Linked DNA regions of Homo sapiens. The protein of the gene in region 1 purifies or fractionates together with the protein of each later gene. This does not show direct contact. Each region holds a gene or a part of one and is shown on either strand. Other genes may lie near its edges.

Region 1 (3,743 bases):
TTCTCATGACAGTGAGTTCTCATGAGATCTGATGGTTTCATAAGGGGCTTATCCCCTCTTCACTCATACTTCTCCCTGCTGCCACCATGTGAAGAAGTACATGTTTGTTTCCCCTTCTGCCATGACTGTAAGTTTCCTGAGACCTCCCCAGGCATGCTGAACTGTGAGTCAACTAAACCTCTTTTCTTTTATAAATTACCCAGTCCCTGTGTTGTTAGCAGGGTGAGAATGAACTCATACAGGGGCCATTCTGAGAACAGGGGAAATATTCATCAATTATGGTAGATTGTAAATGTGACCAGAATCCCTTAATCCTCCGTGTATACATATCCTCTGTAAATGTGACTTTATGAATCCTTTCACTAAGAGGTGGAGTCTGTTCTGGCCTTCTGACTTGCTTCAACCAGTAAAATGTAGTAAAAGTGATGCTGTGCCCAGTTCTAAGGCCTGGCTGCAAGAGGCTTTGCACACTTCTACTTGCTGTTACTGTGAAAAAATAGCTTGCCTACTGGAGAATGAGAGACCACACGAACAGAACCCAAGTCTGCTCAGCTGCCCCAGGGATATGAGTACCCGAAAGCTGCAAACCCAACCTAAAGCTGTACACTCAACCGGCAGCTGACCACTGACATGTGAGGGAGCCCAGCCAGCCCAGCCTACATCACCAACCTACAGAATAATAAGTTAAATGAATGACTGTTACTTTAAGCCACCAAGTTTTGGGGTGGTTTATTATGTAGCCTTAGAGTGGTAACAGATAACTATTAAGGAATAATATACTAAGGAATCTGATCATGTCACTACATAATCATTTTACTTGGCTGCTGCATTTTCCTCCTACAATACCCTAGGAATAAAAACGTATTAACTTCTTGGTCTCATCTACAATTTTTAACATAGGGTAGGTGGTTTTATGAAACCAGTGTTTGAGGGATTTCTTGAAGGGTGGTTTCCATGACATCACTCTGAAAGTCTTAATACGATTAAAAGCTAATGTTGACAGAGCACTATGTGCCAAGCCCCCAAATCTAAGAGCTTTAGATGTGTCAACTCCCTTTTAATCCTCACAACAACTCTATGGTAAGGACTATTGTTACTTTCCATTTTATAAAGGAGGAAACTGAGGCTCAGCAAATAAATTCTCAAGATCTCACAGCGTAAGTGGCAGAGAGAGCTAGAATTAGCACCCAGGCCCTTTGATTCCAAAGACGGTGCCCTTAACCACTGTGCATCCTGCCTGTCTCCTTGAAGTAAGCACAGTAAAATGTGTGTGCGTGCATGCCTGGAGAATGAGGTCCAGTGTTTAGAAGCAGCCACCTTACCCGAGCCAGACGCAGAAGCGTAGTCATCGTCATCAATAGGATACACTCCTGAAGCTTCTTCAATGGAGCTGTTGTCAAGGTACATGTCTTTATCAGATGTCAGCTCTGCTCTCTGAGAAAGGAAAGACAAGGGAGTCAGGATGTTGAGAGATTAAGAAACACACTTGTATATCTGATTGTTCAGGTACATACTGCAGTGACTACCCCTCCCACTCCCACAGTAGTCTGAATCCACATCTCTGGCCACAGTCTTCCTCAGGCACCCTGACAACTTAACAGCAATTTGAGAGGTGAGCACGGACTAATAACCTGCAAGGGAAGCCTACACAGCTTAAACCAGTAGAATGAAAACATTTCGGAGATCTAAACTCCTATCTTGGGCTTATTTTGTTGCATTCCACTAAACTTACCTGACTTTCAGCCATCCCAATGCTAGTTATAAGCCATCTTGGGCATTCTCTTTGTCACTCCCTTACTGGAAAGGGAACAAAACACTTAGGACTTTCTTGGGGATGTATGCAAAGGTATTACGGCTTAGCTTAGGCTAAATAATCACCCAGGGATCCATCAAATCCTACCAGTGCTTGCAGGCCTGGCAATACTCAGAACTTTACCGCTACAGATGAGAGATCCCCAGTCACCTGGGTCCTCAGGCCATGCAGGCCTTTCTACCCCAGCCCAGACCTGTGCTGAGGCCAGCCACAGTGCCCGGAGAGGAGCAGCGCCCGTGAGGCTCACCTGACAGGGAGAAAGCCCACTGCACGCCTGCTTCTAGGGCTCATTGGCTTAGCAAAGCCTTAATGACAAATACAGATAAACCCACACGAGCACATTCTTTTTCTATTACTGGCAACTGGTAATAGCAAATCACACGCTTAATATGGAGAGGGATCAGTCACTAAGTATACCAGTTCCACAGCTTCTTAACTCTTCAGTAAGAGTTTAGTATTAAAATTCAACCTAATCCTGCCAAAAGAAGAACTTGCATGAACTGGAGACAGAGTAGAGGTATAAGACTTTAAAAAATGGTTTTAGTAAATTGATATTTTACTACCATTATCTCGCAAAAGCCCAGGAAAAAAATAATAAAGCAGACAGGCAGCTTTTAAACAACGCTTGTTTGGAAACAGGCAACACTCATTATTGCTCTATTTTTAAAAATCATATAGAATGTTTGCTCTTAACAGAAATTATAAAATAATGTTTCCCTTACTACACTGGCTTTCATTAGATTTAATCTTAAAATAAAATTTTCTCTTCCAGCAGTCGCTGTGATTGGAACCTTCCTAAGAGGACAGGTCCAACCCTCTGTAACAGTACCACTTTATTTTCTCAGGTTTCAGCAGCTGGCTAGCAAGGCTAAAGCACTTTAAACCTGAGCCCACATTCTCCACCAGGCCTCAGTGCCAACTGAAAGCAAAGCATGGGAATCTATTTTGTTTGAGCTATCACACTGGTGGATTCTGAGAACTGAAACCTTAGGGACTGGTGTTCCAGTGGCCTGGACCACCCTGAGCCAAGAGTGTGCTGCAACTTTTCTAGTAGAATGGTCAGAGCTTAACTCTGCAATCTGACGCCACCCTGTTTCACTGGTTTCCAAGGCTATCACCATTCCAGATTGTAATTCCCAAAGCTTGTGAACTGTGTCAGGAGCCCTGTGTTCTACAGCTCTATCATCAACTGCCTCCTCTTAGGCTCTCAGCTCCTTTAAAGGCAAGGCTTCCCTCCCCCAGTCACAGTGCCTGGCATATAGTAGATGCTCAGTAAACACCGCTTGGGTTGAACCACCATTCGTGCTCCCATGAAAAAGCCATTCTCCGTCCTGCTTGTCTTAAACTTTGTCCCATTTACTTCCCCTGGAGGACCTCCTGGTTTCTTCTCTCAAATCCTGGCTACTATGAAACAGGCTGTGACTTCTCCACTCCTTATACACCTCCTAATTATAAAGTACTATTTTAGGATTTTGTAGCATATGAACAGTTTAAGACATAAACCCTCACTGTTACTTTTCATTGTTTCATGTGCATTTTTCTTGCCCCTCAGCAGAGTACAACTCATTGAAGGCATGTTTTGAATGACCTGTGTTCTCTGTCCCTCTCAAAATGCATGGCCACAAAATAAATATTTGACTGAGATTACTTAAACCAAATTGGCCTTGGACTGAGGTTTCAGAGTTACATGTCACAAGACCTCCAGGATCCTCGTAGTTTAAAATCTCTCCATTTTAAGCCTAGGAGACCATCTGCCCCAAACCTCCTATAGCTTGCATTGCATCTATTTAAGTAACCTACAGTCTTAAAAGTAAGCAAAATATTCCCTTTCCATGTTAGAATCTTGTTTCCCTTTTCTTAACATTGAATGACTTTCATTTTCCTCTTGGCTCTGTCAATGAAGTTTGATGTGGCAAGGGTAATACTGAGA
Region 2 (3,743 bases), on another chromosome or scaffold:
AAGTCTCACTATGTTGCCCAGGCTGGAGTGCAGTGGCTATTCATGGGCACAAGCCCACTACTGATCAGCACAGGAGTTTTGACCTGCTTCGTCTCTGACCTTGGTTGCTTCACCCCTCCTTTAGGCAACCTGATGAGCTCTAGCTCCCAGGAAGTCACCATACTAATGCCAAACTTAGTGTAGACACCCAACTGGCATAGCGCACTGCAGCCCAGAGCTCCTGAACTCAAACGATCCTCCCACCGCAGCTGGGATTACAGGCACCCGCACCATGCCCAGCTGTTCTGTCACCCAGGCTGGAATGCAGTGGCACCCAGGCTGGAATGCAGTGGAATGATCACAGCTCATTCCAGCCTCAACCTCCTGGGCTCAAGCGATCCTCCCACCTCAGCCTCCTGAGTAGCTAGGACTGGACCATAGGTGCACACCACCACAACTGGCTAATTTTTAAAAATTTTTTTGTAGATACAGGATTTCATTACGTTGCCCAGGCTGTTCTTGAACTCCTGGGCTCAAGTGATCCTCCCACCTCAGCTTCCCAAAGTGCTGGGATTACAGGCATGAGCCACCATACCTGGCTTGGGTAAATTTTTTAAAGTTTACATACTGATGTACCCTCACAAACTCTTTTCTGGAAGAATACTGAAGGAAATAAGAGTTCTCTCCTGGGCAAAGAATTGGATGTCAAAAAGGCAGACATATCTTTTGTTTACTAATTTTCTGTGCGAATTTTTACTATTTTACTATAATGACTTCGATGAATTTAGTAAATACTGCACTCAGGCACAGTGCTTGGGGGATTCCTCAGAGGGATAATCTGGGTGGAGAGGCAAGGTAAAGCTTTGGAGGCAGCATTAGGACTCAGTAGGAAAAGATTTGCCAGGAGGTATGCAGGTGTACTGGTCAGGAAGAGCAAAACAAGCCTGATCCTGGTCCCAGCTTTCGGCTCTGCATATGCATTCATGCCCACTGGGGCCCACAGGGGACCTGGGCTGTCAGGTCCAGGTGCAAGGCCCCCAAACAGAACAGATATAGCTGGCTCAGTGAGCGCTAGGCACTCTTTCCACCTGGGGCACGGTGTCCCACAGGTCTGCAATCCTGCCAATTACAGCCCAATCCTCATCTGTAGTGCTAGGGGGGCTGACTCCAGTGTCCAAAGGAAAAGGCACTCATAGCCCATGCTCAAAGCTGGGGGTGGGGGGTTACTGACTAGACCTTCACAGATCTGACGCCAGGGTGTGCCTCCATAATACCCGGTCAGTGTGACACTGGGGCTACAGCAAGCTCTGCACTGAGGCTGCGCTGAAATTGCTCTGCCTCTGCTGACTGTGCATGTTTTCCCTCCATGCCAATTAGCACTTGCTGTGTGCAGGGCCTGAGCTAGGGCCTGGGGGTACCTAGATGCTCCCCGACCTGAAGGCACTCACAGCCTCAAGGTAGTGGAGAAGGGAGGAGGCAAAGGAGGCAGCTTGGCAAGATGAACTCTGCCAGCCAAAGTCAAAGACCAGGACCCAAACGAGCCCCATAGCCAACCCTGGCTGCTACTTGCTTCCTCCCAGGCAGAAGCCAGCCACCAGGCTGTGATTCCCAGGAGTCACAGCCCTGGAAATTCTCCCTCAGATTTGCCTTCAGCATTAGGGAACAAACTCTATCATTCCTTCATCTGGGTTGCTTGGGCTCAGGGAATACAAATGCATTTCATCAGCATTATTCCAGACAGGGTTTAAGCCATCTTGCGAGGCACAGCAGAGACAAAGGAGAGGCTTTGAAGATCGTCACTGACTGCATGTCTGCCACCATGGGCACAACCCTGCACTCCTCCACTGGGGAGAAGCATGTGGCCAGAATCCCATCCTCACAGCTGAGAGCAGAGGCATAGCCAGTTACCATTGCCGGCTACACATTTTCACACCATAACAGCTGCAGGAGGGGGCCTGCAACAGTCATCTCAGTCTGAGGGCCGTGTACTGGGCAGGAGGATGGTACCTTAGCCTGCAGTCTCCCAAGAAGGCTGGGAGGGACCTGTGCCCTGGCTCTGTTGCTTTGCTTACACCATTCCCTCTGGCAAGAGTGCCCTTCCCCCAAAAGCCTCCCGTCAGATTCCTATTTGTCACGGCAGAGTTATTTATAACATTAAAAAAAATTCAGCAACTACCTAAATGTCCAACAACAGGTGACTCGCCAGCTCAACTGTGTCCACTCAATGGTAGGAAGTGTGGGCACTGGCAAGAGCTCTGCCCACCTTGGCTTTCCTGTGGAGCAGCTGCCACATGAGCGAGGTGCTGAGAGCAGAACTGAATCTCTTCTTTCATTGTGATTTCTGACATTATAAGGTGGTTTGTGCAACACATTGTCCAAAACAATCCTGATGCTCGAAGGCCAGACTCAAAATGGCCCTTTTCTGAGATACCTTCCACAACCTCCATGCCCCACCCCCCACCCCACTCCAACAGCTCCCAGCTTTGCCAGTGTGGCGTGGGTGGGAGGTTTTGTGCATGCCTGTCCTTGATCCTGGCCCCAGCTTTCGGCTCTGCATATGCATTCGTGCCCACTGAGGTCCAGGGCTGGTCATGGGGGTCTGTCCCATGAAAGGCACAGAAAACTGGGCCTCCACCCCGTAATGTCAGCCTGGAGCCATGTCCTGAAGCCTCAAGGCTGAGATGGGAACAGATCTGTCTCCCCTGCCCCCTACTATGGCTGCCCAAATTTCAGCCAGTCACTCCTCCTCCTCCTCCTCCTCACCAGTCTAAGTATACTGGCTTGGGGCCCTGGACTTGGCCCCAGGGCAAAGAGAGGAGAAAGAGGGGCCTGGCTTTCAATTAGCACCTTGGTTCCCTCTGCCCACACCCACTCCACCATCTGCTATCCACTGTTGCTCCCTGGGAGGTTTCGGGTGTGTGCACCAAGCCCTGGGCACCTGCTTGCAACAAAGGAGACCTGGGAGGAACAGCCAAGGGACAGCTCTCAGAAAGAGAGGAGGCCAAGTGGAAGGGGTTTGTATTTTTCACCCCCATGGCCCAGACCCAACACCCAACAATGGAGAGCTCTCCTCTCAGCAACACAGGATCTGAGCTCTTCCTCAGGTACACTTAGGCCATGGAAGGGCATGGGAGCTCCACAACAGCCATTTCCCTGGAGACATGGCTCCCTCCACTCTCTGCAGAGGAACTGAACAGTATGCACTACCGGCTGCCCAGAGGGAGCTTGTGGGGAGTGCAGGCCCTGGTGCGGCCATTGCCCTCCAGCTGGCTCTCATGGAGCCTGAGAGCCAAGCACTCCCCAGTTATGGCCTGCTCCCAGGGCCTGACCACTGGACTCAGGGAATTGAGCCTCCAGCAATCCTGAGGGGTCCTCTGTTGGTGCCCTGGTGATAAATGGTCCCCCAGGGACTCTGCTGCATCTTTAGGTAAGTCTGGCCCAGGGAAAGCCCAAACGGGACAAAGGCCAAGAGGTCCGGAGGCCCCACATTGGGGTCCTGTCCCCTCCTCCGCTGAGATCATCCTGGTTCAGGCCCTACCTTTCATAGACATAAACAGAGTTTCCTGCTACCTTGGTCCCCTGCCACGTGGGGCTCCAGAGCTTGCAGTAAATCTAGGGAGGCCAGGAGGGGCCCAAGAGGCCTCCAGCTGCCTCCCAACAACTGTAGGCAACACCTCCTAATTTAGTGGCAGCTGTGAACACCAGCCTGCAGGCACCCCCTCCTCTCTGCTGCTCTACTCTCTCAAGGGCTGGGGCTGGGTTTC

The links.
Region 2: the proteins of SDC2 (region 1) and CAMKV purify together in Homo sapiens (affinity purification with mass spectrometry; 4 studies listed by BioGRID and IntAct, with this or other methods). This does not show direct contact.

What each region holds. Positions count from the first base shown.
Region 1 is NC_000008.11:96,591,171-96,594,913, reverse strand, and holds part of SDC2 (syndecan-2 precursor), read right to left. Parts: intron 1,435-3,743; coding exon 1,323-1,434; intron 1-1,322. UniProt on the Homo sapiens protein: Cell surface proteoglycan which regulates dendritic arbor morphogenesis.
Region 2 is NC_000003.12:49,863,381-49,867,123, forward strand, and holds part of CAMKV (caM kinase-like vesicle-associated protein), read right to left. Parts: intron 281-3,743; exon of another isoform or gene 1-280. UniProt on the Homo sapiens protein: Does not appear to have detectable kinase activity.